Linked DNA regions of Homo sapiens: regions 1 and 3 are each linked to region 2. Evidence: fine-mapped expression QTL. A gene starts in region 2. Each other region holds a variant in brackets. All regions are shown on one strand. Distances are from middle to middle. Region 1 overlaps OSTF1 (osteoclast stimulating factor 1). Region 2 holds the start of NMRK1 (nicotinamide riboside kinase 1). Region 3 has its middle 160 kb from the start of OSTF1.

Evidence for each region.
Region 1: its variant is fine-mapped to the expression of NMRK1 in whole blood (TOPMed, PIP above 0.99).
Region 3: its variant is fine-mapped to the expression of NMRK1 in tibial artery (GTEx, PIP above 0.99).

What each region holds. Positions count from the first base shown.
Region 1 is chr9:75,145,270-75,154,800 of GRCh38, forward strand. It overlaps OSTF1 (osteoclast stimulating factor 1), which reads left to right. Exons shown (of 10, transcript NM_012383.5): 10 at 1,414-1,996. The coding sequence ends at 1,472. Among named protein-coding and RNA genes, the nearest start is that of OSTF1, 62 kb to the left of the region's middle. The variant C/T (reference allele first, on the strand shown) is at 4,651.
Region 2 is chr9:75,083,156-75,092,700 of GRCh38, forward strand. NMRK1 (nicotinamide riboside kinase 1) reads right to left here and starts at 5,000. Exons shown (of 9, transcript NM_017881.3): 1 at 4,853-5,000. It overlaps OSTF1 (osteoclast stimulating factor 1), which reads left to right and starts at 5,359. Exons shown (of 10, transcript NM_012383.5): 1 at 5,359-5,571. The coding sequence starts at 5,538. RefSeq lists silencers at 4,870-5,469, 5,660-5,749.
Region 3 is chr9:75,240,708-75,251,898 of GRCh38, forward strand. No RefSeq gene overlaps it. Among named protein-coding and RNA genes, the nearest start is that of OSTF1, 160 kb to the left of the region's middle. The variant C/T (reference allele first, on the strand shown) is at 4,368.

The sequences.
Region 1 (9,531 bases), 62 kb after region 2:
CTAGCTAGCCAGAGGTTTGATCCAATTTAGGTTCAATCTATCCATCTCTTCACCTACCTACCTATCTACCTACCTACCTAATCATGTATCTTTCTTGGTAGTAGAAGGAATAATAAATCATATAGAATATTGTGTTCTTTTATCAGGGGCACATGATACCTGGTTGTCACTCTTCCTGTGATGTGACATCCATTGATGATCGTTGCCTAGATCTGTTACTTCACTAAACGGCACAAAATGATGATATTCTAATTAAATCACTTCTTTTTGAGTTATTAGCTGGAACATTCTATTAGGAAAAGTTTTCCCTCATCAATTGTTTTGTTACGCAGAGGAACAGTTAATGTAGCAAGGGCAGGATAAATGCTTGATTTTTGACCTTTATTTAAGAGGTTTTAAAATAATAAGCTGGTCTCTGTCATCCTCCAAAGGGTGACAGATGAGTTCTTTTTGGTGTGCCTTGAAATATTTAATGTGCTTTAATCCATTCCAATTAGTAGCTTTATCAATAGCCCATCTTTGGCTAGTGGAGGCCTCTTTAAGTTGAATCTCAGACCCTTTCACGTGATGCTGTCTTTGTTAGGATGCTTGCTTTATGACATGACTAGGGTTCTAGGTCCATCCCTTACACTTCCTGCCCCATACTTGGAACCGGTCATATGTATAATAAGCTTCAGAGATGTGATACTTAGAGATCATGAAGATCTGGGTGCTGTGACATATATTTATTGAACTTCAACAATGTGCTTGTGTTTGCATTCTGTTTTTCCCACTAAAATTATACTTGGGCTAATCTGTTGCTATAGGAATTTGACTAGACAGTTGAAGGGGTGACTGTGAAAGATCAGATGTCTTCCTTTTGAGTCCTGTTCAAGTTTGCTTGAACATTTGATGGGGTCCAGCTCTATTTTAAAACTTTTCCCCCCCATTTCAGCCTTTTGCTTTATTGTCGGTGTTTTCTACATTGAAATGGAAGCTTCTTTGTTTTCATTCTTTCTTTTCCTTTTTCCCCTTCGGTAGTTAACGTCCTACCTAGTGACTTTGCCTTTAGGCAAGACCTCAGGCTGTCACTGGGAGAGGAGGTTGGAAGCTCAGTTGTCAGAGTGGAGTGCTGCTGGTGGTGTATCATGTTGGTCATGGTGCCTGTGGCTAGGCCTTTCTGTTGGAAATGGATGCATGGCACCTAGGACCAAAACTTCTGCATGACTGTGGAACGCATCATCAGCCTCTGTGGCAACAGAAACTTAATGGTTAGGCTGAAAAGCAAAAGCAGAGAAAGATCCTCAGGGAAAGTACAATCCCTGGGTCAGATGGAAGATTCTATTCTAATTTAAGAGCTTTGAAAATGAAAAAATAAAATCTGAGCAGTTTATAATTTCCCTATTTTGCTTTTTTCCCTCCTCTTTCTTTCAGATGCAGTTCGAACATTAAGCAATGCCGAGGACTATCTCGATGATGAAGACTCAGATTAATTCCTTTCTGGAGCTTTGAGATCTAAAACTTCTGTTGCTTTTGCCATTCCAAAACTTTGTCTTTGCCAGAAAAGTGTTGGTAACTATAAAGAAAATTATATATGAACACGGCAGTGTTGCACTGTGTTTGAGTAGAACGTGTAAATGAATTGTTCCCACCTTTGGTTTGCCAGTAAGTGACTGGATTCTTGGCACATTTATGTTCACCAAAGTAGAACAAGAAGATATTATTTCTATTTATCAAGCAAAAGGAATTTTAAGATTTTTTTTTTTCTTTAAAAACAAATTAGGATTTTTTTTTTTTTTTTTTTTTTAGTTAAAATGCTTTACCTCAATGGTTGAGATATTTTGAATGGATTTTTCAAGGGGGGGAAATGCTTATTATAATAATAAACCAAAATACTTAACAGAAAATTGTCAGCTATTCTGACAAAAATAAACATTTTGAGAGACTTTATTTCTTTTGTCCGTTTCTGTGGTATCACTCATTGTCGTTAAGTAAGTAAAGCTTTTTATATTTAGGTAAGAACTGATTTTATTTTTTAAATTATATTTTATATTTATTAGCACAGAAGAATAATGAGAGCCACATTTTAGTTCAACTTCTTGTGTTAGCTTTGATCAAAGTCAGGACAATAATCATTGAGAAGGTGCATGTCTAATAAAATAGGTAAATTTAATAATTGTGAGACTTCCAGTTTTTATCTCCAAGGTTGTATTTAGAGTGGAGAAACCCAACAACTCATTACAGTTTCGCTAAGATTTGAAAGGTTAAAAAAATTTATTTCCTTATGATAGATGCCATACTTTTCCATATGGAGTAGTCAGGAACCATGAAATTTTTTGCATTCAGTTTTTTTAATAACATTTGTTTTCTCACAGTATGGATCTAGTTCATAATGATTCAGATTCTTTTGCTGAAACACAATTAGCATTGCAGGGAGCCTTCTGTACTACTGACATGACACTTCATTTGGCGTTCTAATTTTGTATCACTACAGTGATGATGTAAAAATGACATGGCCATTGGAATTTGCCTAGAATCCCGGCCCTAGGTCCAAAAGTATATTTTGCAAGATGATTTCAATGCTAATTTCAAAAAACACGTTGATGAAGAGAAGGAAATGTATGAAGAAGGAAGTGGGTTAGCTCAGGAAATGAATAACTGCCTCTATAAGAGTTTATTCTGTGACTGTTTGGTTTTTCACTCTGTGGGAGCCTTGAGAAACGATACCCAGAGAAGCCCATTTGAGGTCTTTCAAACACCCTCAACTAAATTTTAGTAGAAGAGAATCTGTACCACTAGTGACAACAAAGTATGAACACAAATTCTGGCACCAACAAAAGAGGGCATTTTATTCTTAAAATAAATACGTTATTAAATTTGATTTAACCAGTTGTATTTCTTCTTAAACATAAACTTGAAGATATGAAATTCTTCCTGAAATTGTATCTATTCCTATAGATCCTTTAAGATTTTTCTTTAAAATGGGGCTTGTTTCTTAACAAAAAGCTTTTAGAGAACCCTGTAACTTTTTGTTCTTCTATACTTTGGGCTGGGGTAATTAGGATGGATTTCAACTAAAGACTCTTAATTTTTAAAACATGGGCAGAAATAATACAGCTTGTGTGGCTATAGACAATTTTTATCAAAATACCATGTACTTGCTTTAGATATATTATTTGTATATCTGAGGGAAAGAATAGTGGAGGTCTCACTATCATTGTTTTTAACATTATCAAACTTAAGAGAATTTTAGAAAGTTGGACAACTATAGTTTTTTTTTGAAGATGAGGAGAGTGCTTAGCTATGTGCATGAATTTTTGGTAAAACAGGACAACTCATTTAGTTGTGGCTGAAACTCCACTGGAAATTTTTTTGGTTTGTTTCTTGTTTATTCAGCCTGGCTAATCTGAGCTTTCTCAGAGATTGTTTAGTGCTGAACTCAGCAACAAAAATCAGTTCTAGGAATTTGCCACTGCTCTGACTGTGCAGAGGAGAGCTCTGATTATGTTTTGGAAATAACTTCAGAGGTTTTGCTGTAATCTGAGCTTGCTGACAGTCACTGTGGCCTGAACTCCTTTCTAGTGATTGCACCCTTTAAATAGGAAATGCCTTCCAGCTACTTGGGCAGTGCGATACTTGTTTAGTTGTAGGCCCAGGAGCCTCATGCAAAGAAAAATTCTTATCAGAGGTTCCCATTTCAGTTTTCTTTCTGGGCTGTTCTGTTGCACATTTTGTTGTTGTTGGGCTGACATGTATTACAGCATTTCTTTATAAGCCCCCATGGCTCCTCTTTTCAGTAGATTAATTATGTTATTACTCAAAGGGAAATGTTGAACAAAGCAATGGCGACTCCATTTTATTAATCTTAAAAAAAAAAAACTGGAAATAGGCCAGGCACGGTGGCTCACGCCTGTAATCCCAGCACTTTGGGAGGCCGAGGCGGGAGGATCACCTGAGGTCAGGAGTTTGAGACCAGCCTGGCCAACATGGTGAAACCCTGTCTCTACTAGGAAAAAAAAAAAAAAAAAAAAAAACTAGCTGGGCATGGTGGCGGGTGCCTGTAATCCCAACTACTTGGGAGGCTAAGGCAGGAGAATCGCTTGAACCCGGGAGGCGGAGGTTGCAGTGAACGAAGATTGCGCCATTGCACTCCAGCCTGGGCAATGGAGACAGACTCCATCTCAAAAAAAAAAAAAAAAAAAAAAAAAGGAAATAATGCTGAAAACGAAATTTTAGGTAATTTGCAGATAATTTTAAAGATGGAAATGTAATTTTTCCACATAAGCCTTCTTCATAAATGTTTTTTATTGTGTAGAGTTTCTGATTTACTAATTTTCTTATTGTGAGCACTATATTTATCATCTTTGTAAATGATGATTTCTTTTCTGATAGGCTGTGGAACCTAACATTTACATCTGATTATCTGCCTTCCCTATTGACTCAGACTGTGTATTTTTTGTCTTGATTTTTATATTGTAAATATGTATATTGCAGGAAAAGATTGTATAGCCAAACTTTGAAGTGTCCAATTACTAAAAGTTGAGGTTTTAGTGGGAGAAATATTGTAAAAGATTCTGGTATTCCTGTTTGCAAATATAGCTTTGGTGAACAGTTTTCTCATGTGAAGGAAAAATTGCAGACCACAAATTTGTGGCTTCTGTTTCCTTATTT[C/T]TCAATAACAAGCTTTTACATCTGCCCCTCCCTTAAAATGACATGAAATTAAATAAAACTACCATTTATGAAATGTCTACTCTTCCAGTGCCTGTGCGAGACATTTTCACAGACATGATGTCATTTGATCTTTGCAGTAACCTTAGGCGAGGAATGTTAATGCCCCAACTTTTTACAGAGACGCTGAGGTTTGAAGAAGTGAAGGAACTGGTTGAAGGTGGACACACGGGTCTGGGGAACCCACGCGCTATTGCCTGCTGCAACAGTCAGATGTCATCATTCACATTCTCTCAGAAAAATCTGCAGAAACAGGACAGCTTCTTTCCAACGGAAGCCCTTGATATAGGCATCTAACAAATTCAGCATATCTGCTAATCAATTCATAATTTATTTAAAATGACCCTAAGCGCTTCCAGAGAAATTTTCACCAAACTTTTAGTTCCCAGTAACCCTAAAGAAATATTTAATGAAGCAGGTTTTACTCCCAAGTTTCCAAAATTTCCTACTCTGTACACATTAGAGTATGAGTAAGTATAAGAGAAGGAAAGCTTAGATCAGCACCTATTCATTTTGCTTTGAGTTTACATTGCTAAGTTCAGCAGTTCTCTCAGAGAGTCTGAGAGCTCCTCACTTCTGTGTAACCATGAAAATAAATGCATCCCTTGGAAGGGTCAGGGGATGTGGTCTTACCTGAGTCTGGGAGCTCGATGTGTACATGGAGGTAAGTAACTTCACAATTCCCAGGCAGTGCTGCTGTGTCTGTCGCCAGTGGCCAGCGGCTTGGGTTTCCCAGCAGGCTCAGCCCTGTGGGCAACTGGGAGCCACAGGGAGGCCAGGTTCCTCGCGGTGCCCGGAAAAGAACACTGAGGAAATCCAAAGGTATACATTAGACAGCCTGACAGGAAGCAGGAAGGAAAGTGGAAGGAATAGACAAGGAGTGAAGAGGCTGAGCCTCAAAGGAAAAATGGTTACCTTTTCTAAATGACCCATAGTTCTGACAGAAATTAGTAGAATGCTTCGAGAAGTGGTGAGGGGTATGGGCTTTGGAATCACACTGTCTGGATTCAAGCCTGATTCTGCTGAGTGACCTGCGACAGGTTACCTAAACACCCAGATTCCCTAGCTGTGCAGTGGAGGAAGTGGTAGTATCTACTGCCTAGAGTTAGAAGGATTAAATAAAATCATATATGCAAATGACTTAGTTCCTGAAAAACTCTACTACTGAGCAGTTGCTCAGTTAATGTTGGGTATAACCATGAACAGGGAAGTCTGCATTAAAACCAGATATGTGTGTTATACAAAGGAGTGTGTCAACACGTTTTTCAGTTTCACCACCAATATTGAAGAGCAGAATTTCCTAAAATACTTTAAAAATGAGTGGAGGACAATGATGTTGCCTTCCAGTCATTTAGGTTTCTTCATATGTGGTAGTAGAGTTTTTCTTTTTCTTCTTCTTTTTTTTTTTTTTTTTTTGAGATGGAGTCTTATTCTGTTGCTAGGCTGGACTGCAGTGATGCGATCTCAGCTCACTGCAACTTCCGCCTCCCAGGTTCAAGCAATTCTCCTGCCTCAGCCTCCCGAGTAGCCAGGACTACAGGTGTGCACCATCACGCCTGGCTAAGTTTTGTATTTTTAGTAGAGACAGGGTTTCACCATGTTAGTCAGGCTGGTCTCGAACTCCTGACCTCAAGTTATCCACCCGCCTTGGCCTCCCAAAGTGCTGGGATTACAGGCGTGAGCCACTGTGCCCGGCCGAGTTTTTCAATATAAATGTACTTTATTTGAGTTACAGAGAAGAGATATATAACTGGAAAAGACCTGGTTATTACTGTTACAGTAATTCAAAGATGAAGTAGGGAGATTGTCTCTGCCACTGTTTCAGTTTTATCCTGTTGCTTTCAAGTGGTTTGATGGGCTTGATAGACCGTGGGTCTGATGTTTGATACATGATGATTTGAAATCAGAAAGGTGTTTGGTGTTACTATCCTGCTCTTACATGACTTCAAAATTCAGACAATACTATTATTCAAATGAATAGACTTTGCACCTTCATAGGTTCCCCTATAAAGTCTAAACTTCAAGAATTTAGTCTCACAGCTTCAATGACAAAAAGAGAATTGAAGACACTTTAAAGTATCATACAATCATATTAACTTTGAACAAGGTGAACAAAAAAGAACTAAATTGCATATTTTGTTATTACCCATTTCAGAAGGTGAATTCCTGAGGCCACAAGAAAATGCTTCATGCCAACAGTGAGTATGAGATGTGGATGTGATGCCTGTTTGGACACAGGTTGGCTTGAAGAGTCACACAAAGCTGGTCATTGACTGAAACTAGAAATGGCTTTGGAGAGATTCATGGCCCTGAAAGCTCTCAGAGAGGGCATGCCACCCTGACAGCAGGGTTCAGGGAAAGCTGGCATGCAGTCCTCTGTCATCCTGAGCCTGTGACATTGACCAGGTCCCTTGGTCCACATGATATGCCCAAAATTAGGATCAGGTGATACCAGCTCCTCCTTGTGTGAAGCAAGTTATCATTGCTGCATCAGTTTCTTAGAGGTCTTCGACCAGGACCTGATTTTTGAGCTTCGGGTCACAGCTTAACCCTCTGTGGTGGTTGTGTCAACTTTCCAGGGTGTGGTACGCCTCATCTGCATCAGAACGCGTGACAAACCCCTGTGCTTAATCTCAGATCTGGGGCTCAGGTGGTTGGTCTCAGGATGAAAGAGCACTTGAGGGCACAGCTGAGTATGTGAGTGTGGTCTGGTGTGGTGGAGGTGTTCACTGGATCTTTAGACCTGCTCTGGGCAATGCTGGGAGTCTTGCTCTTCTATGAGCCATTGCATTTCACAGACTGTTTATGTTTTAGCCACCATATATAGATACTGTATGACGTTTGTGAATGCCTTTCTTCTGTTTTTGAAAATGGGAAATCATGCCTTATCAGCTCTCTCTCTCCCCATTTCTCATTTTTAGTTAGCAATAGTGTCTTGTATACTGCTATGTGAATTCATTAATTATTACCACTACCACTACTATTTATTAATGTATTTATTTTCCTCTGGTGTTGAAACTGAAACTGCTACTGCTAGTTCTAACTACTAAGCAATTATTCCTTGCTAGGAAATCTCAGCAGGAAAACTATAACTGCTCATATGAGAATTGTTCTTCCATATTGTCTTTAAACAGTCCTTAGATGTCCAGTCCAGTGCCTTACACCCATCCCCTTTTTAATAGCTGGAGCCTGAGGCCTGGAAGTGACTTGCTATGAGAAACATAAGTCAGTACAAGAGCTGACCAGCAAGTGAGGAATTGGAAGCAAGGGGTCTGAGATGGTTGCCATGGGTATTTCCTTCTAGATTGTATTACTGCGTGAGACCATTTTCCCACTGTGGGCATGTTTTCCTTGAGTCAATTTTCCAGGTACTCTATATTCAGCACTCTCCTCCTTCCTTTTCTTTAATTCCATTTTAGCCACACACAGGGGAATGGAAAGGGCCTGATTAAATCAACTATTTTTTTTTTTTTAACTTTTATCTTCTGAGGCCAGGCATGGTGGCTCATGCCTGTAATCCTAGGACTTTGGGAGGCCGAGGCGGGCGGATCACCTGAGGTCGGGAGTTGGAGACCAGCCTGACCAACATGGAGAAACCCCGTCTCTACTAAAAATACAAAATTAGCCGGGCATGGTGACATATGCCTGTAATCCCAGCTACTCGGGAGGCCAAGGCAGGAGAATCGCTTGAACCCAGGAGGCGGAGGTTGTGGCGAGCCATGATCGCGCTGTTGCACTCCAGCCTGGGCAACAAGAGCGAAACTCCATCTCAAAAAAAAAACAAAAGACAAAACAAACAAAAAAAAACCTTTTATCTTCTGATTTAATGTGGCAAATATGAGAAGAAATTGAAATGCCAACCAAAATGCCATTGTAGAGTTTATAATCCCATGTTTTTTGGCCGTCCCCTGTTACCTCTCCTAGATAAACAGGAGTTGAATGTCTTGTGTCCTGATTTTTATGGTCTCTTAGTTACTACAATAACAAGATCACTCAATCCCGTGGAGTCTGTCCTATTACAGAATATCAATGTTCACTCTGCTTTTTCTTTATTTCATCTATCAGCAGTGAATAGCACTTTCATGTTTAAGATGCTTCCTTTTAAAGTTGGAGAATAAGAATAAATGTATTGGACGGCTTTGTTTAGTAGCAGCATTGTCCTTTAGATCCACTGAGGAATCTTAAGAATGAAATCATCATAAATAGGCAAATAGGTAATGTTTCAGTAAATACTTGTGGCGACTATGTTTCCTTTTTAACCAAGAGCCCAGTAAAATTTGTAATTACTTCAACTGAATGAGAACACAAGGCCATTTCATGTCCTCAATCTTTGTTGATATGCTTTGCTTATTTTAATGGCTTGCATGCATTTTTTATTGTGCTGTTGATAATAGTTTTACATAATTCATAATGATACACAATAAAAGTTTCATTGCGTTCACATTCCTTTGTGGGTCTCCTCTGTTGCATGTTGATTGTGGTTTAATACTAAAACTGTAACAATGTACATCCAGTACTGTTTCATTTTCCTTGTTACTACAAGCTATGTGATAAACTTACTTTATTCTGTATATGTCATTTTCATTTTTTTCAACATAATTTCTTTATTATGAAAGAAGCCAATACTTAAGAAATTATCATGTATTATTTTCTTATTCTTTATTTTATAAAATCTATGAAAATTCTTTCCTTATTTCCACCTCAATAAGGAGTTTTAAATTGTGATTTGAGGGATTGTTGATTGACTGATTGATTGATTGATTGATTGAGACAGAGTCTCACTCTGTTGCCCAGGCTGGAGTGCAGTGGCATGATCTCGGCTCA
Region 2 (9,545 bases):
AGTAAAAAAACAAACAAACAAATCAAATGCATTTCATTTAGATGTCTAGGGAGATAAAAGAATCCTAAATTAGGAGCACCAGCTGAGAGGGGAGGATGACAGTGACCTTTCAGCCCAGCCCCGCATTATCCACATTCCCGCCGCACTGGCTTCCCCTGCTACCACTGAGTGCCAACCACTGGGGTGTGCTCAGGACTGTCAAACAGTTCAACGTCAGGTGACCTGCCGGAGCACTCCCCCTTGAACGTCTGTTTTCTGGGCGTGGAAGAACTGCTAGGCCACAGCGTGGTATATGAAGTTTCATCCTCTCCTTAGCCAGGTTGCCTTCCACCTTCACGATTCAGTCGCCTGGGTATGACTCATTATCAGTGAGGGAGGGACCCCTGTGGGCTGGCCTCTTTCTCCCCTCATGAGACAAGGAAAAAGTCACTGCTGACCAGAGGCAAAAAGAAGCTAATGCCGTTTAAAGATACTGCCCTTATGAGACAAGAAGAAAGTTACTGCTGGCCAGAGGCAAAATGAAGCTAATGCCGTTTAAAGACACTATTTCTTCACCCAAAAGCCTAGGTCTTGGGCCTGGCTAGGTACATTTTTTTTGGAAACAGGCCAGACAGTAAATATTTGACACTATGTGGGCCAAGAGGCAAAATCTAGGTTGTTATGTATGGACTTATATAACAAGAGAAAAAACATTTTCACAATTTTTTTTGATGAAATTCAACATATAATCATAATTTTTTTAACAGGTCTACTAATGACAAGAATGAAATTCCCTTTTATTGGGCTATCATTTCTCTTAATTGGATTTCTGTTGTGCTTTCTACATGAAACTGCAAATGTTCAGGCAGAGGGCCAAGTTAAGCCACCGGCCACTGTTTTGTGGATTTTTGGTTTAGGGGATGGAGGGCAGTTTCATACATGCCTCCCTAACGTTCACTAAAGTAGTCCTTGGTTATTACAATGGGCCATTTTTCTCACTAAGTGAAAAGGTGAAGCACAGCTGGAGGGAATCTTAGAATAGTGGCTCCTGAAGGTCATCCCTGAAGGCCACTCTTCTTCCTTCCTATCTGCTCAGGGGGGTTGCCAGGGACCTAGGCCGTGTAGCCAGGGGCAAGCGGCTGCCTGCCAAGCTGGAGGCTCCCAGCAATGCTCCAGTTTCTATGATCTGTGTCCACACTCTCCCTGGGGAGGGGTTATGCAGAAAAAAGCCTGGTGGGAAGAGGGCTATTGTTGTCTGACTTCTTGGCTTATCTAAATATCCCACATTGAGTACAATTGCTTAAGACTGGGGTCCACTTCCATTAACAAGTCTATGTGAGACAAGAATCAATAATGACTGTGATAAAATAGCAGCAGGGCACTGTGGCTCATGCCTATAATCCCAGCACTTTGGGAGGCCAAGGCAGGCGGATTGCTTGAGCTCAGGAGGTTGAGACCAGCCTGGGCAACATGGCAAAACGCTACCTCTACCAAAAATACAAAAGATTATCCAGGCATGGTGGCATGCTCCTGTAGTCCCAGCTACTTCGGAGGCTGAGGTGGGAGGATTGCTTGAGCCTACAAGGTGGGGGTAGCAGTGAGTGGAGATTGAGCCGCTGCACTCCAGCCTGGGTGGCAGAGTGAGGCCCTGTCTTAAAAAATAAAATAAAATAGCAGACAAGTTGCATATTTAAGTTTCATCCAGAGTTATGTTGTTGAATACACATCTCCATCCAAATTTACAAGATGTATCGAGGGAATGACTGCATACAATGAATATTGTAAAATACATTTTTATGTTGTAATTTTTCTGCTTTTGAATTTTATTTTACCCTATTCTTATTTTTTTGGTATGTCGGTTCAATGCTGCCAATTAGCCTTTTTTTGGGAAGGGAGAGGCTGCTCTTTATCTCACTTTTGTGGTGATAAATGTTCTTTCTCTTACAAAACTATGTTGTCAGAAGATGTTAGTAGAGTGATATCCTCACTTTACCAAATAAAATAAAAATTCATAAAACCTTGTCATTCCTTGCCCCCATTATTTTTGGATAGCTCGCTGAAGCATAAATTCTCAAACTTGGAGAAGTATAGCTTTAGCGATTACTTGGTCTACCCCTTCATTTTGCATAAGTGGAAACTGGCTCAGACAATAGAGCAATTTGCCTAAGGTCACACAGACAGTAAGTGGAAAAGCCAGATATTAAACTAAACCAATTGAGCTGACTTCTTTCTATCACTCCAAGCTGCTAAAAAGCACTTTATTACTAACAGCAAAGAAAGGGTGTTAGGTATGTGCTAGCTTAATTGTCAGGCTCTGATGTATAATTGATGTCATTCTTACTGATGTATTATTGATGGGGCATCTATTTGCTGTGCACACAGAATGGAAAGGACTACTGGTCCCCGTCCTAAACTGCCACATCTGTGGTTACACGTGTGACCATTGCATCAATTACATGGCATGTAAATAACAAGTGAGCATGGTTGTGGCATGGGAAATAGGCTTGAGGGGGTTACTTGCATTCAGGAACCAGGAGTAAGATGGCATAAAAAACCTACTTATAAAATCTCTCAGATACAGTCAAATGTAAGTTTTTTTTTTTTTTTTTTTTTTTTTTTAACCAAAACAGGAACTCCCAGTTCTACATTAGTTAGCAGTCTGGGCCTGTCCAAGCCAGTGTTTGGGTAAATGCTGGGCATACCCTATCAGCTATGAGCAAGTGACAATGTGATGGGAAGGGTGGGTAACTGGAACATGCAGAGACAAGAGAGGCAACTGGGCTAAGTGACTAGGGCGGGGTGGGGGGTGGGCCTAGCAATCCCTGAAGGCATTTATTTCAAAAACAGTGTGGATGCACAGGGCAGCTTTAGGGGAGCTCCAAGTTCAGGCCTGGCACTGTCCACCTCCACATCACATTCTACTATTTCATTGCCTGTTGCCCCTATAAAAAAAATCACCAAGGCTGCAGTGAGCCATGACTGTGCCACTGCATTGCAGCCTTGGTGACACAGCGAGACCCTATCTTGAAAAAAACCAAAACAAACAGGCAAAAAACAACCCAAAAACTGCCTCCCATAAAACCAAAAACAAAACAAAAAATCAAATTTAAAAAGCTCGCAATTGAGTTGCCAGGCTTCATGAAGCAAATGCAAGCTTCGTACAAACTGTAAATCATGTGATGTGTCCAAAGAGTCATCATTTCAGGGCACGTCTATCACTAGAATCCACACCACCTTCAATCTCATGGAATATCTGTGTAGTTTATTTTCCCAGTGCGTGCAAGGCTTTCCTCAACAGCGGAGAGCTTTTGCATAGCAGGAGAACAAACTAGGATAGCCAAGAGCAAACCTGAAATGACTAATTTTATTTTTTACACTTTTTTTTAACCCTAAGTAAAATGTTGGGTTTTTTAAAATAATTCAGGTGTGTTTATTATGCTTAATTCATTTCACTACTAAACACTTGCCTTTTGGATTCTAAACTGCAGAATGGTCAGAAGTGGCATGTGCAGAATCAGCAGATTGTACGAACTCTCTAACGCAGCTCTCTAACGCAAATGATCTGAAAGACAGCTGACAAAGCTAAATGTGCTCTTCAAATGTATCTACAGGACAGTCTGATATTTTAAAAAGAGAAAAATGTTTCCAGGACTTCTTACTCTGTATTCTATCCAACAGCTATTTTGATTCTCTTCTTCCAGGAGATAGGGCAGTCTTTTCCTACTATTGTTTAAACTTTGCTCCCTTTTGGTAAACAAATCCCTCAAGGCTGGGTTTTTTTTTTTTTTTTAAGACAGAGTCTCGCTCTGTTGCCAGGCTGGAGTGCAGTGGCGCAATCTCGGCTTACTGCAACCTCCGCCTTCTGGGTTCAAGTGATTCTCCTGCCCCAGCCTCCCGAGTAGCTGGGACTACAGGCGTCTGCCACCACGCCCGGCTAATTTTTTGCAGTTTTAGTAGAGATCGGGTTTCACCAGGTTGGCCAAGATGGTCTTGATCTCTTGACCTCGTGATCCACCCGCCTTGCCCTCCCAAAGTGCTGGGATTACAGACGTGAAGGGCTGGGGTTTTTGAAAACGCAATTCATGCCCCTCCCCCATTGGTTTCATTTATGTAGGTTCTTAGGTAAACAGTTTTTTCTTTCCCCAAATATACAATTAATTTACAATATTGACTGTTATTTTGAACTTATGCCATTGGCTTCCTTGTGTGCTCCAGTTCTTTCCTCCCACCGAAGATTCAATCCGATAGATCAGGGGTAGGAAAACTTTTTCTGTAAAGTGCCAGACAGGAAATGCTTTGGGCTTTGCCAGCTGCTACTCAACCCTGCTGGGTAATGCGAAAGCGGCCACAGAAAACACAGATGCAAATGAGCGTGACCGTGTTCCAGTAAAATTTTACGGACACTGAAATCGTAATTTCATGTAATTTTCACGTGTCACAAAGTATTATATTTCTTTTTATTTCTTTTCAGTCATTAAAAAAAGTAAAAAAAAAAAAAATTCTTAGCAGGCCTTACAGTAACAGGCAGCAGGCGGGCAGTAGGTCATCACCCCAACGCTAGAGGAATGAGACCATATCGATCCGCGAGGATCAAGTCCTGATCCTGTCCCTGGCGACTTCTCCAGGCTGCGCGGTCTCTTGGAGGCAGCGTTCCCATTTTCAGGATTATTCCGGGGCGCTAGAGCACCACGCCACCATGAGTACACGTCCTCCTCGGCAGGCCACCTATCAGCTCTGTGAGGGTGGCAAGAGTCCAGGCAAGGCTTTCAGGGCGCAACCAAGTCCCGGGCTCCAGCACAGAAACCCTCTGGAAACACCTCCAGGCCCCAGCAAGGCGGCGCGGCGCGGCAGGGGCGAGCAGGTACGCACTCACCTGGCGCCAGTTCGAGTCCTCCCAAACACAGCGGCAGAGGCGACAGCCAAGCGCGCGCCTGTACCCAGTGCGCCGCTACCCGCAGCTCGCTCCCCGAGAGGCCCACAGCCCCTTTCCCCACGCTCCTCCTGGGTTAGAGGGATGCCAGGTAGGGGCGGTCACCAGAGGCCCCTTTTCTCTACTCTCGGCGCCGGGTTCCAGCCCCCGTTGGGGCGGGGCGGGGCGGGGCGGGGCTCCGGCTAGCTTGGCCTCTTCCGCGCGCCCCTGCGCAGCTCCGGCCCTTCCCTATCGGGAGCGCGCGCGGCCCGCGGCACTGCACTGGCGCACGCCCGCTTCGCCCTCGCTCGGCTCCGGCTGGTTCCGCCGCCGTGCGCGCCGCCCGCGCTCCTGCTGCGGCGAAGCTGCCAGCCCGGGAGCCAATTAGCGCTCGGCTAGGCGGGGTCCACTTCCTCGTCGGCCCGGCGCGCGCTCTGGACTGCTCCGGCGGCCGCGGGGCGGGGCGGAGCACTCGGCGGAGCCGCTCTGCCTGCGTCCGCTCTTCCCGCAGCCAAGGGTGGGCGCCGGTCCTAGGAGGCGCACGGTTGTAAGCCAGACAAAAAGAACTGGGGTGCCCGGAGTGCCAGGTGGCGGGCAAGCGGTGGGCTTTTCGGCGGGGTCTTTAGGATTTGCAGCTCCAGGAAGCGAGATGTCGAAGCCGCCACCCAAACCAGTCAAACCAGGTGAGGGAGGTAAGGTAGGCGCTTGCCAGGTCCTGCGACCGCCGCGGTGCCGGCGCCTCCTCTGCAGCTTGGCAGGGAGGACCCGGCGCGCACCCGGCCCCGAGCCTGGCTTCCGAGATCGGCCCCACCGGGATGGGCGCTCTTAGTTTTGCGTTCGCTGTTACGGAGGAGGGATCGATTTTGATAGCAAGAGGATTTCGAGGATTAATATATATATATATATTTAAAGGGGAGTAGCCCTCACTTTTGCTACGTTGTCATTCGCTGAAACTTTCAGAGGGTGTGATGGCAACGTCCCATGGAAGTTTTCCGGAAAGACAGGGCCATTGATCTCCCTTTAAAAAATGTCATGAAATGATCTTTAGCCACTTCCTCTTTTCTCAGTGTTTGTCACTGTCAAGTTAGGGTTCCTGACCGGCCAGAGCGAACGGGAAGTGCAATCCCTGCAGGGTGGGGTGGGCGAGCGAGCCTCCCTCGGGACTTAAGCGTGGAGCAGCGTTTGAAATTGACCTCGGGATCTTGGGAAGAGCGTTTAGAAAAAAACCCTATACTCGCGCTCCTGGTGGAAAGAATCTAGGATGCGGCAGTGATCTCAGCTGTTGCTATTTGGAAGTGTCATTTTATCATCTCCTTTGCCTTTGCTCTCCCAAAGACGTTGGCGTGCTAAACCTGAGAGGGCTGAGATTACTAAATTCCTCAAAGCAGTTTTCTGGGCGGATTGTCCTTGTTCATTTTTGCTCTGTTCTTAGAATATTTTCTGTGATATGCAGAAATAAGATAATTGTAAAAGAAACTGACGTATTTTAATTAAAAGTTGTAACATACTGTTCCGCTCATTCATTTGGGTAGGTAATTAGAAAGGACTGACGTATTTCAATACTTTAACAACTCTTACGTGCATTCATTTGGGTAGGTAATTAAGGGAAATACAGGAAATGGAAGATAAATGGCTCCGATGTATTCTTGGGTTTTTTCTTCCCATAGTGTAATTTCGGTATAGCGAAATGCTGAAATTTAATCCATTTACGTCAAATTTTGAAGTAACTTTCTTTGCAAGAGATGAGTTTCAGTGATTACTTTTTTCCTTGATTTTCCTAAACTCTATAGCTTTCATACTTATCTAGTTTTGTTTCTTTGCGTTCCTGCAGTTGGAGTATGAAGTCCCTTTATTTGATAATCATGTACGTACGTATGTGGAATAGTGCTTCACTGAGGACTGACATCTTGGTGGGCTGAGTGTGAAGGAAGTTGCTGAGACTGGCTCTGCCCTGGGCAAAGATGGGGCACAGCTAGAGTTGGGTTCTGCATTGCATTAGATGTGGAATCTGATGAGAAATTTCCATTTTAAGTGCATATGTATGAGGTAGCTTTCTAAACTCAGGTGCAAATCAGGACCTTAAGTATCTAACAGTGCAGAGTTGTTCTTTGATAGCTAAACAATATTTTATTTATCTTATTTTTTTCTGATCACCTGCTGCCAGTTGAAATACGTTAAAGAATGCCCTTTTTAAAAATCTCTTCATGCGTATTAAATGCTGTCTATATTGCAAATGGAGGGACATTGACAGGTGTGTGTGTGTGTGTGTGTGTGTGTGTGTGTGTGTACACAGTAATGTATACATGTGGGTTCATTCACACTTGGGGGTTTAAGGGTCATCCTGTTACTAATTGTGGATACATTCCCAGGAACCTCCTTTCTCCTTCACATCAGAAAGCTTATGGTTAAACATGACAGGTGTTTAGAGGGAACTTTGCATTTTATTTTATTTTAATTTGTTTTATCTGGTCCTTGATTCAGGATAAAGGGAATTTTGAATCAACATTAATTTACAAATGAGATCCAGACACAAAGTTACCATAGAAATGGGTTTGCCAGTTTAGTAATTTACAGTGAGAAACATTACTGCCAATCAGAGTTGAAACTTTGTGTGGGCTAGCTTAGTTGAAGAAAAAAAAAAAGCGATGGCCAGGAGCAGTGGGCCATGCCTGTAATCCTAGCACTTTATGAGGCTGAGGTGGGAGGATTGCTTGAGGCTAGGAGTTTGAGACTAGCCTGGGCAACATAGCAAGACCCCGTCTCAACAGAGTACAAAAAACAAAAACAGAAATGTCCTATCGTAGTACTGTCCCACATTTACTGTGTGTTAGGCAATGGTATAGTCACTTTACACGTGTTAACACATTTGCTGCTCTCAACAATCTTATGAGATCAGTACCATTATATTGTTCCTGTTGCACAGATGGGGAAATAAAGATGCGCAGAAATGTTATTTAACTTGTCTAAAGTCAACAGTTAGAGTGGGGGATGTAGCAGGCAGTATTAAAACCCAGGTAGTCTGGCTTTGAAGTCTGCACTTTTTTTTTTTTTTTTTTTTTTGAGACAGACTCTCGCTCTGTTGCCCAGGCTGGAGTGCAGTGGCGCGATCTCGGCTCACTGCAACCTCCGCCTCTCGGGATCAAGCAATTCTCTGCCTCAGCCTCCCGAGCAGCTGGGATTACAGGCAGCCCGCCACCATGCCCGGCTAATTTTTTTTTTGTATTTTTAGTAGAGACAGGATCCAGGCTGGTCTTGAACTCCTGACCTTGTGATCCACCCTCCTTCGCTTCCCAAAGTGTGGGATCACTGTGCCTGGCCAAAGTCTGCACTCTTAACCATTTGCTATTCTGCCTTAAGTCATAGTGCTCCATTCACACTGGCGGTCAAATGTGTATTTTAGAGCTGGTGGTCAGGAAGTCGAAAGGGAGGGGCCTCTGGTCTACAGACTTTCTTGTCACAAATGCACATAAAGGTCAGCCCCTGGTTGACAGCAAGGAGAGTGGTGTGGAGCTTTACTTTCTTGTCCTGCAGGCAAGCTGCATGGATAAAAATCTCCAAAGACAGCATGGGATTGGGGGCTTTGGGGTTGTATTTAATTTTTTGGTTTGTTTAAACCTTGCCTCATTCCAAAAGGACTTCTAAAAATACACATGATCTGAGAGAGAGGAAAAAGTAAAGATAAAGCATGGTCATCTAGAGGAAGGGAAGAATAGTAAGATGAAACAAGAGGAAAAGCTAGCTTACAGACAGACCTGCATGTGTAGTAAGGTCACTGTAGATTTGGCTCTCAGCTGCAAGCAGAGAGAAAAATCTCAAGATTCATAGTGCTCATAAAATTAAAATGTGTCACTTACTCTGAAAAGTAGTTATTTTAATGGCATTGAGATCTGAGACAGATTTTCCTGTGGGTTCTCTTAAAGTATTGGAGTGGCCTGGATATCTCTAGCAGAAATACAAGACAGAACATCCTAGCCATGTTTCTTACAGCTTCTTTCAGAGCAAGATTTGGGCAAAACAGCATGGCTCAATTCAGTAGACAATACTAAAAGGAAAGGAGCTAGGTGAGTAAGGACAAAGGACTTGCTGGAAGATATTAAAAACAAGGGACATTAAGCTATAATGCAGGCTAATAGCATCTTTCTGGCTGATCAGCACATCCCCAACAGGGGGCCGATTTGTGGAAGGAGGCTGCCCAGGGAAGTCCCGGGCAGATGCTAGTGGGAGACCCTGGCCATTTTTGTACCATCTGGAGGATAGATCAGGGTTACCTTGTTTGGGTTTTTGGCCATATCCAGAATTCATTTGCTAAACAAATGTTTCTTAATAAATGTAGCTCATATATTAGGCCCTGTGCTAGACACTGGGGTTCCCAGGAACAATAATCTATGGTGTCATTCACGAGGGTCCTGAGTCTAATGGGGAAGACGTATGTATCTACAGATATTACCTAGAGTATCCCATATTTACAAGTGGATGGCTGATCTCATTCATTTTGTTTTTTTTAAAAAAGCTTGTAAGTAAAAATATAATTTTTTTATTTTTAGAAAATTTAGAAAAAGGTAAACAATAAATATATAACTAAAATATAGGAATCATCCCTGTCATCTACTGATAATCACTATTTACATTTGGTTGAATATTCTTTCAGGTTTCTTTC
Region 3 (11,191 bases), 160 kb after region 2:
TTTTATTGGGATGACTATTACCATGTATTTAACTTCTCAGATCTCCATAGCATTTTATTGCTGATTATTATTCCACTAATCCATTCAACGGTGATGGAGCTGTATTCAGTCTTAGTAAGGGCCAATCTATTCAGCTAGCTGCGTGTCCAATGAGCCACCAGTTAAAATCCCCACAGAGGCCCTCCCAGATAATACAGGACCTTTAATTAAGTGGTGTTAACAAAGATCACACAGATTTTCCTTTGATGTTTTTATTAGCCAAATATTATAGTGATCGATGATTACCATTGTATAGAAAATATACTAATGAAGATTAAATTAAAATAGGTTTCAAGGTACCAGCATGCAGGAAATCAAGTTCTTTAGAAAAGAAAGAAAAGATGATTGATAGGTATCTGGGATTTTTGTGTTTACATGTATACCTACAGAAACCAATTTAAACAGTGTTCTTTTTGTTTTGGTCTCCTTGAAAGAGTACTATAAACTCTTCTGATCTAAGATGTATTGATATATAGAGAAGGAAGGCAAATATCTATGAAATATAGTTACAAAACAAGGGTTTGGGTTGTTGAAAGTGTTATACGTGCCATTCTATGAAATTAGAATTTTTGATCTACATGATGAGTTAGTGTTATGTGTCAGATGCTTTCTAGCAGCGGCAGCAGAAATGTTTTCTTGGGAGAAGGAATGAAAGCTTATATGGAACCCTGATATATATATATATATAAAATATGTATATAATATAAGAATATATATAATATATAAGAATATATAATATATTATAAGAATATATATAATATATAATATAAGAATATATATAATATATAACAAGAATATATATTATATAAGAATATATTATATATTATAAGAATATATAACATATTATCAGAATATATAATATATAATATAAGAATATATATAATATATAAATATATATGCTATATAAGAGAACTGATTCAGTTGAAAACAGAACTTGATCCTCCCACACCCCCACTTCATAGCTCCTTTGTCTCCACATACCATCCAAGAAGAAGCATATTTCTGGAACTCTTGAGCTCTGTACAGTTTGTAAACTGTTGCCCCATTGAGTAAATTTTAGAGAAGCATTCTCTAGTGTGAAAGTGGACCCCTTTTCCTTCCTGAAAAGACAACTGAGGCAACTTCAGTCACCCTCTTGGCCCCTGAACGTTGTTTATTCAATAGCAGTGGTAATAGCCGATATATCAGCTCAATTTTAAAACATTTCATTTGTTTAATCTTTAGCTTTGATGCTGGGGGGATCCTCAGGAAATATGTTGCTTGTTCTTTTGAAAATCCCAGTAGACAACAGGTGAAAAGTGTAAATAATGAGTCTCAGAACTTGTAATTAGCCCAATAGGGAAGAGCAGCTCAACACATCCAAAATAGAAGACACACCATAGCCGTCACCCTGTCCTGAAAGTATCTCTGCTAGGTTTCGTTTCTTTTTCTTTTCTCCTTTTCTTTTTCTCTTTTTTCCTTTTTCTTTTTCTCTCTTCTCTCTCTCTTTGTCCCTCTCTCTCCTGTCTCTCTCTCTTTCTCTCTTTCTCTTTCTCTCTCTTTATCTCTCTCTGTCTCTGTCTCTCTCTCTCTCTTTCTCTTTCTCTCTCTCTCTCTCTCAATTCCAACATCTAACAAAGTATTCCACACATAGGAGTTATTCAATAAATAGTTGAGACTCAAGAGTAATTTGTAGAATTTTTAGACTTTTGAGACAGATGCAATGAACAACTCTATTTTATATCACCATTTAGCAGAGTAGTCACATTTTGGGAATTTGTATAGAAGAAAGCACTGAAGACGTCTCATGATTCAGGCTGCAGTCTTGCCTTAGAACAAATGAGTTGGGATGACATTAAAGCCCAGAGAAGCTAAATTATTTGCCCAATTTCCTTATCTATAAAATGAGGAAGTTCAGTCTGATGATCTCAGTCCTTTCAACTAGAGCATTTCAAAAGCATCTATGATCTATGTTATTGTCAATTATACTACTGGCTATAATACATGTAGGTGAACTCAGCTGGAGAGACCAAATTGTGATTTGTACTTTCCTACTCCTCATTGTGATCATTAGATTTCCTTTCCAACCATACCAGCCTGAATTCTGTGCTGTAAACTTTCCCTTCATGTAAAAATCTTGCTCAGTTAAAAAGTGAGGCGAGGCATGGTGGCTCAGGCCTGTAATCCCAGCACTTTGGGAGGCTAAGGAGGGTGGATCACTTGAGATCAGGAGTTTGAGACCAGCCTGGCCAACACGGTGAAACCCTGTCTCTACTAAAAAAATCCAAAAAGTAGCTGGATGTGGTGGTGGGTGCCTGTAATCCCAGCTACTCAGGAGACTGAGGCACGAGAATCACTTGAACCCAGGAGGCGGAGGTTTCAGTGAGCCAGGATTGCACCATTGTACTCCAGCCTGGGTGAAAGAGGGAGACTCCATCTCAAAAAAAAAAAAAAAAAGAAAAAAAAAATTGTGAGATTTATTCTCTGGTTGCTGACCCACAGCAGATTGGAACATTTATTGTTCTGCTTTTTAGGCTTGATGATTAGCAATTGTGTTCCTGTTAAACAGCCTGTGGTTGAATTCTGCACATTGGAATGGCTTACTGACTCCTTTGCGAGTTAAGAATATATTTTTATGGCATCATTTGTATCTTCAAAAATATGTATTATGATAATAAAATGAATTATATTTGTCACTTTTTAACACCATGATTATCTCTGTAAAGTAGTTCGAATGTAGTGTTTTCATTTATAGTATCCTATCTTAGCTATAAATCACTTTTATTTTTAAATCTTCCTGACTCAGAACCCCCTGTAGTATGTTTGCATTTCTCCCCAATATTATGTCTTTCTTGTTTCATTTCTTTCTGCTTAAGTGTCACTTCTCTGTTCCATAACTTTGAAAAGGCACAGAAGTCCAACTGCATACATTTGGTGGAGAGGTTGCTGTGAATGACATGAATCTAATTGTGAAGCTTCCCTTTAGGGATTGTATTCAAACTTTAGTGTCAATAAAAGTCACCACAAATATTTGTTAAAATATTAATACATATTTTAGACCTAGTCCCCAGGGTTTCTGAATGAATAGATCTGGGATGTGTCCCAGTCTCAGAAATCTGCATTTCTATCAGCAACCTCAGTTTATTCGGATGTAAGGGAAGATCACACCTCACCATAAATGTCATTTAATGGCTCTTAGGGTGAGAATGTGACGCTGTGTGGCCAGGAACCAATACTGCATATTCCTCATATGGCTCAGTTTCCTAGCTTATCCCTGGGTGTTGAATTGCACTGTTTCTCTTAAGCTAGAATTTTGTTTGGCTTTCATGGGAAAGGCATCGCTTCAGAAAAGCACTCTTCCTTTTCTTAGGTGATTTCTATGTGTGCTAAAATTTGAGAACTACTTCTGGAAGGAAATATCACAATTAGATTCAAACCTTTAAAAAAGTTTTCTAACCAAATACCTGTACTAAAAAATAGGTACGTTTTATTAATTTATTTTCTCCTTCCAACTTTTAAGTTCAGGGGATACATGTGTATGTTTGTTACACGGGTAAATTCTGTGTCACTGGGGTTTGTTGTACAAATTATTTCATCACTCAGGTAGTGAGCATAATGCTTGATAGGTAGTGTTTTAATACTTATCTTCCTCCCATCTCTACCCTCAAGTAGGCCCTGGTCTCTTGTTGTCTTCTTTGTGTCCGTGTGCACTCAATGTTTAGCTCCCACTTATATGTGACAATATGTGGTATTTAGTTTTCTGTTCCTGCATTAATTTGTTTAGGGTAACGGCCTCTGGCTGCATCCATGTTGCTTCAAAGGACATGATTTCATTTATTTTTTTTTTTGGCTGTGTAGTATTTCATGGTGTATATATACTACATTTTCTTTATCCAGTCCACTATTGATGAGCATCTAGGTTTATTCCATGTCTTTGCTGTTGTGAATAGTGCTGCAATGAACATGCAAGTGTATGTGTCTTTGTGGTAGAATGATTCATATTCCTTTGGGTATATACCCAGTAATGGAATTGCTGGGTCAAATGATAGCTCTCTTTTAAGTTTTTTGAGAAATTACCAGACTGCTTTCCACAATGGCTGAACTAATTTACATTCCCACCAACAATATAGAAGCATTTTTTTTTCTCAGCAATCTCATCAGCATCTGTTATTTTTTGACTTTTTGATAATAGCCATTCTGACTGGTATGAGATGGTGTCTCATTGTGGTTTTGATTGCCATTTCCTTTTTTGTTTGTTTGTTTTTTTGAGATGGAGTCTCGCTCTGTTGCCCAGGCTGGAGTACAATGGTGCAATTTTGGCTCACTGCAAGCTCCGCCTCCCGGGTTCA[C/T]GCCATTCTTCTGCTTCAGCCTCCTGAGTAGCTGGGACCACAGGCGCCCGCCACCACAACTGGCTAACTTTTGTATTTTTAGCAGAGATGGGGTTTCACCGTGTTAGCCAGGATGGTCTCAATTTCCTGATCTCGTGATCCGCCCACCTCGGCTTCCCAAAGAGCTGGGATTACAGGCGTGAGCCACCACGCCCAGCCTTGATTTGCATTTCTATAATAATTAGTGATCTTGAGCATTTTTTCATATGTTTGTTGGCTACTTGTATGTTTTCTTTTGAGAAGTGTCTGTTCATAACTTTTGCCCATTTTAAAAATAGTGTTACTTGATTTTTGCATGTTGATTTAAGTTCTTTATAGATATGGATATTAGATCTTTGTTAAATGCATGATTTGTGAATGTTTTCTCCCATTCTGGATTGTCTGTTTGATAGTTTCTTTTGCTGTGCAGATGCTCTTTAGTTCAATTAGGTCCCACTTGTCTATTTTTGTTCTTGTTGCAATTTCTTCCGGAGTCTTCATCATGAAATCTTTGCCAGGGCCTATGTTCAGAATGGTATTTCCTAGGTTTTCTTCTAGAGTTTTTATAGTTTTAGATTTACAGTGAAATCTTTAGTCAATTTTGAGTTGATTTTGTATATGGTGAAAAGGGGCCCAGTTTCAATCTTCTGCATATGGCTAATGAGTTATCCAAGTACCATTTATTGAATAGGGAGTTCTTTCCCCATTGCTTGTTGTTGTTGACTTTGTTGAAGACCAGGTGGTTGTAGGTATGTGGCTTTATTTCTGGTTCTCTAATCTGTTCCATTGGTCTATGTGTCTGTTTTTTGTACTAGTACCATGTTGCCTTAGTTACTGTAGCCTAGTAATATGGTTTGAACTTGAGTAGTGTGATGCCTTCAGCTTTGTTCTTTTTGCTTAGGGTTGCTTTGGTAGTTTTTTTTAATTACTGATTCAATTTTATAACTCATTATTGATCTGTTCAGGGTTTCAGTTTCCTCCTGGTTCAATCTTGGGAGGCTGATATGGTTTAAATTTGTGTCCCTGCCCAAATCTCATGTCCAGTTGTAATCCCCAGTGGCGGGGGAGGAACCTGCTGGGAGGTGATTGGATCACGGGAAGGAACTTCCCCCTGGCTGTTTTCATAATAGTGAGCTCTCATGAGATCTAGTTGTTTAAAAGTGTGTAGCACCTCCTGCTCCACACATGTAGAATATGCCTGCTTCCTCTTTGCCTTCTGCTGCAAGTTTCCTGAGGCCTCCCTAGCCTTGTTTCCTGTACAGTCTATGGAACTGTGAGTCAATTAAAACTTTTTTTTTTTTTTCTAAATAAATTACCCAGTCTCAGGGAGGTCTTTATAGCAATGTAAGAATGGACTGATATAGAAAACTGGTACTGGGAATTGGGCATTGCGATAAAGACCTGAAAATATGGAAGTTACTTTGGAACTGGGTAACGGGCAGCGGTTAGAACAGTCTGGAGGGCTCAGAAGAAGACAGAAAGATGAGAGAAAATTTGGAACTTCCTAGAGACTTGTTATTAAATCATTGTGACCAAAATGCTGATAGTAATATGGACAATGAAGTCCAAGCTGAGGTGGTCTCAGATGGAGTTGAGGAGCTTATTGGGAACTAGAGTAAAGGTTATTGTTGCTATGCCTTTGTAAAGAGACTGGCAGCATTGTGACCCTGCTCTAAGGATCTGTGGAACTTTGAACTTGAGAGAGATGATTTAGGGTATCTGGTGGAAAAAATTTTTAAGCAGCCAAGTGTTCAAGATGTGGCCTGGCCACTTCTAACAGCATGTGGTCATATGCATGAGCAAGAGATAATCTGAAATCTGAACTTATATTTAAAAGGGAAGCAGAGCATAAAAGTTTGGAAAATTCGCAGCCTGACCATGTGGTAGAAAAGAAAAACACATTTTTCTGGGGAGGAATTCAAGTAGGCTGCAGAAACTTGCATAAGTAAAGAGGAGCCAAATGTTAATAGCCAAGACAATGGGGAAAATGCCTTGAAGGCATTTCAGAGAACTTTGTGGCAGCCCCTCCCATGACAGGCCCAGAGGCCTAGGAGGGAAGAATTGCTTCATGGGCTGGGCCCAGGACCCGGCTGTCCTGCACAACCTTGGGACACTGCTCCCTGGATCTTAGCCTCTTCAGCTCCAGCCATGGCTCAAAGGGCCCCAGATACATGTCAGGCCACTGCTCCAGAGGGTGTGGTGTTAAGTCTGCAGGTGTGTGGAGGGCAAGAGTTGAGGCTTGGGAGCCTCGGACTAAATTTTGGAGGATGTATGGATATGCCTGGATATCTAGGCAGAAGTGTGCTGCAAGGGCAGAACCCTCATGGAGAACCCTTACTAGGGCAGTGCAGAGGGGAAATGCAGAGTTGGAGGCCCGACACAGAGTCCCCATTGGGTCACTGTCTAGTGGAGCTGTGAGGAGAGGGCCACTGTCCTCCAGACCCCAGAATGGTAGATCCACCAACAACTTGTACTATGTGCCTGGAAAACCTTCAGGCACTCAATGCCAGCTTGTGAAAGCAGCCAAGGGGGCTGTACCTGGCAGAGCCACAGGGGTGGAACTTGCCAAGGCTTTGGGAGCCCACTCTTTGCATCAGTGTGGCCTGGATGTGAGATATGAAATCAGAGGAGATTATTTTAGAGCTTTAAGATTTACTGACTGCCCTGCTAGATTTCAGACTTGCATGAGGCCTGTAACCTTTTTGTTTTGGCTGATTTCTTGCTTTTGGAATAGGTATATTTACTCAATACCTGTATTCTCATTCTATCTTGGAAGTAACGAACTTGTTTTTGATTTTACAGGCTTATAGGTAGACGGGACTTGCCTTGTCTCAGTTGAGACCTCAGACTGTGGACTTTTGAATTAATGCTGAAAAGAGTTAAGACTTGGAGTGTTGAGAAGGGTTGATTGTATCTCGCAATCTAAGAAGTACATGAGATTTGAGAGGGGCCAGGGGTGGAATGATATGGTTTGGCTCTGTGTCCCTGCCCACATCTCATGTTGAATTGTAATCTCCAGTGTTGGAGGGAGGGGCCTGGTGGGAGGTAATTGGATCATGGGGGTGAATTTTTCCCTTGCTGTTCTTGTGATAGTGAGTTCTCATGAGATCTGGTTGTTTAAGTGTGGCACCTCCCTACCATTCTTCTCTTCCTCCTGCTTTGGACATGTAGAACGTTCATTCTTCCCCTTCACCTTCTGCCACAGTTGTAAGTTTCCTGAGGCCTACCCAGCCATGCTTCCTGTACAGCCTGCAGAACTATGAGTTAATTAAACCTGTTGTCTTTATAAATTACCCAGTCTTAGGTAGTTTTTTATAGAAAGGTAAAAATGGATAGAATACAGAAGTTGTATGTTTCCAGGAGTTTATCCATTTCTAGATTTTCTAATTTTTGTGCATAGAGGTGTTCATAACAGTCTCTGAGGAATTTTGGGTTTCTCTGGGATTGGTGGTAATGTCCCGTTTGTCATTTCTGATTGTGTTTATTTGGATCTTCTCTCTTTGTTATAGTCTAGCCAGAACTCTCAAACTTACTTATTCTTACAAGGAACAAATGTTTGGTTCTGTTGATCTTTGGTATGATTTTTGACATCTCAATTTCATTTAGTTTAGCTATGATTTTGTTTATTTCTTCTTCTAGCTTTGGGATCAGTTTGCTATTGTTTTTATAGATCCTCTAGGTGTGAGATTAGGTTATTAATTTGAGATCTTTCTTTTTCATGTCAACATTTAGTGCTATAAACCTTCTTCTTCTTCTTCTTTTTTTTTCTTTAGACAGAGTTTCACTCTTGTTGCCCAGGATGGAGTGCAATGGCATGATCTTGGCTCACTGCAACCTCTGCCTCCTGGGTTCAAGTGATTCTCCTACCTCAGCCTCCTGAGTAGCTGGGATTACAGGTGCCCACCACCATGCCTGACTAATTTTTGTATTTTTAGTAGAGATGGGGTTTTGCCATGTTGGCCAGGCTGGTCTCAAACTCCTGACCTCAGGTGATCCGCCTGCCTTGGCCTCCCAAAGTGCTGGGATTACAGGCATGAGCCACTGCATCTGGCCCAAACTTTTTTCTTAGAACTGCTTTAGTTGTGTCCCAGAGATTCTGGTATGTTGTATCTGTTTTCATTAGATTCAAAAAATTTATTGATTTCTGCCTTTATTTCATTGTTTACCCAAAAGTAATTCAGAAGCATATCATTTGATTTCCATGTAGTTGTATGGTTTTAAGAGGTCTTTTTGGTATTGATTTCTATTATTGTGCTGTGGTCCAAGTATATGGTTGGTATGATTTCAATTTTTCTTGAATTTATTGAGAATTGCTTTATGGCCAAACATGTGGTTGATTTTAGAGTAAATGCCATATGCAGATGAGCAGAATGTATATTCTGTTGTTGGGTGGGGTGTTCTATAGATATGTTAGGTCCGTTTGGTCATGTGTTGAGTTTAAGTCCTGAATGTCTTTGTTTAGTTGTCTGTCTCGATTGGTGTAATAATGTCCATGGGGTGTTGAAGTCTCCTACTATTATTGTGTCATTATTTACATCTCTTTGTAAGTTTCTAAGAACTTGTTTTATGAATCTGGGTGCTCAATATTGGATGGATATATATGCAGGAGCATTAAAATTTTCCTGTTTAATTGAACCCTTTATTACTACGTAATGCTCTTCTTTGTCTTTTTTGATCATTGTTGATTGTAAAGTCTCTTTTGTCTGAAATAAGAACAGCAATTCAAGCTCTTTTTTTTTGTTTGTTTGTTTGCTTGATCTTTCTCCATTCCTTTACCTTGGGTGTATGTGTGTCATTGCATGTGAGGTGGGTCACTTGAAGGCAGCATATAGTTGGGTCTTGCTCCTTTATCCAACTTGGCACTCTGTCCCTTTCAAGTGGAGTGTTTAGCCTGTTTATGTTTAAGGTTAATATTGATATGTGGGGATTTGATCCTGTCATTGTAGTGTTAACTGGTTGTTATGTAGACTTGATTGTGTAGTTTCTTTATAGTGTCAATGGTCTATATACTTAAGTGTGTTTTTGTGGTGGCCAGAATAGTCTTTTATTTCCATGTTTAACACTCAATTAAGAACCTCTTCTAAGGCAGGTGTAATGGTAATGAATTTCCTTAGAATTTGCTTGTCTGAAAAGGATTTTATTTATCCTTTACTTAAGAAGCTTAGTTTGGCTGGATATAAAATTCTTGACTGGAATTTCTTTTTTTAAGGATGCTGAATATAAGCTCCAATCTGTTCTGGCTCATAAAATTTCTGTTGAAAGGTCTGTTTGTTAGCTTGATGGTGTTTCTTTTGTAGGTGATTTGCCCCTTCTCTCTAGCTGCCTTTAATATTTTTTCTTTGGCATTGACCTTATAGAATCGGACTATGTGTCTTGGGTGTGGTCATCTTTTACGGCATCTTGCAGGATTCTATGAATTTTCTGAATTTGAATGTTTTTAGTGAGGTTAGCAACATTTTCACAGACAGTATCTTCAAATATATTTTCCAAGTTGCTTGCTTTCTGTCCTTCCCTTTCAGGGACACTCATGTTTGTAGTTTTGGCTTCTTTATATAATCCAATATTTCTCAGAAGTTTTGTTCATGCTTTAAAAAAATCTTAAAAAAATTTTTTTTCTGAGTTCATTTAAAAAACTGACCTTCAAGTTCTGAGATTGAACTTAACTTTGCCTATTCTGCTGTTAATACTTCTAATTGTATTTTGCAATTCTTGTAGTGAGTTTTTCAGCTTTATCTGATAAGTTTGCTTCTTTCTTAAAATGGCTGTTTTCTTTTTCAGGTCTTGAATCCTTTTACTGGACTCCTTAGATTCCTCAGGTTGGTTTTCAACTTTCTCCTGAATTGCAATCATAATTGCCATCTAGATTCTGATTTCTACATCTGTCATTTCCATTATTGCTGTGTGATTAAGAACCATTCCTGGGGAGGTAGTGCCAACTTTTAGAGGTAAGAAGACACTCTGCCTCTTAGAGCTGACAGAGTTCTTGCACTGGTTCTTTATCATTTTTGTGGGCTGATGTTCCTTATTCTTTGAAGTTGCTGTCCTTTGGATGGGGCTTTTTGCTTTTATATTTTTTGATGTCCTTGAGGGTTTGACTGTGGTTTAAGTTGGGTTTAATTGATTGGCTTTGTTTCTGGATGGTTTCTTGGGGTCAAGGCTTAGCTCAGCTCTCCTTGGTTGCATGCTGTAACCATGAGGGGGTGAGACCAGGTGCGCAGCTTTGTTCTCTTGCCTCTTGAATTTAATCACCTGCTGTTTGGAGGGTTCAAGGTGTTCCTGGCTTGATGGCAACAACACTCTGATGATGAAGGTTGCTAGGGAAAGCACTTCATCTGGGCAGGGCAGTAGCAGTGGGGTCTGTGTGCATGCTGTCCATGGTGGGGTAGTGGCAGCAAAGTCCTTATGCATACTGGCAAAGCAGTGGGGGAGACTGTGGGCAAGTATGTGCTAGTGGAGCCTGTCTGTAAAAGCCCTTTGATGTTAGGCAGAGTCTTCTGGTGATGGAGCTGATGGTGGTGGCCACTGGGAATTACCCCATTTGGGCATCTGAGTCTGCTGAGCAAGTGGGTTCAGCCAGGCAATCCCTGAGAGAGGCTGGCAGAAAAGGTAGTGCTGACATCAGACTGGCCCTGTGTCATGGGCAAGATAGTCCCATTATGTCTAGGTCCGGCAGTCAACAAAGGCAAGAGCCTCCTATAGGAGTATGGCAAGCCTTGGGATATGGGCATCCCTGGCTGTACTCCCCTGCAGCCATTCCTGTGCCTAACCCCCTGGGTTTATACAGGGTGAAGTCCTGTCTATGTGAA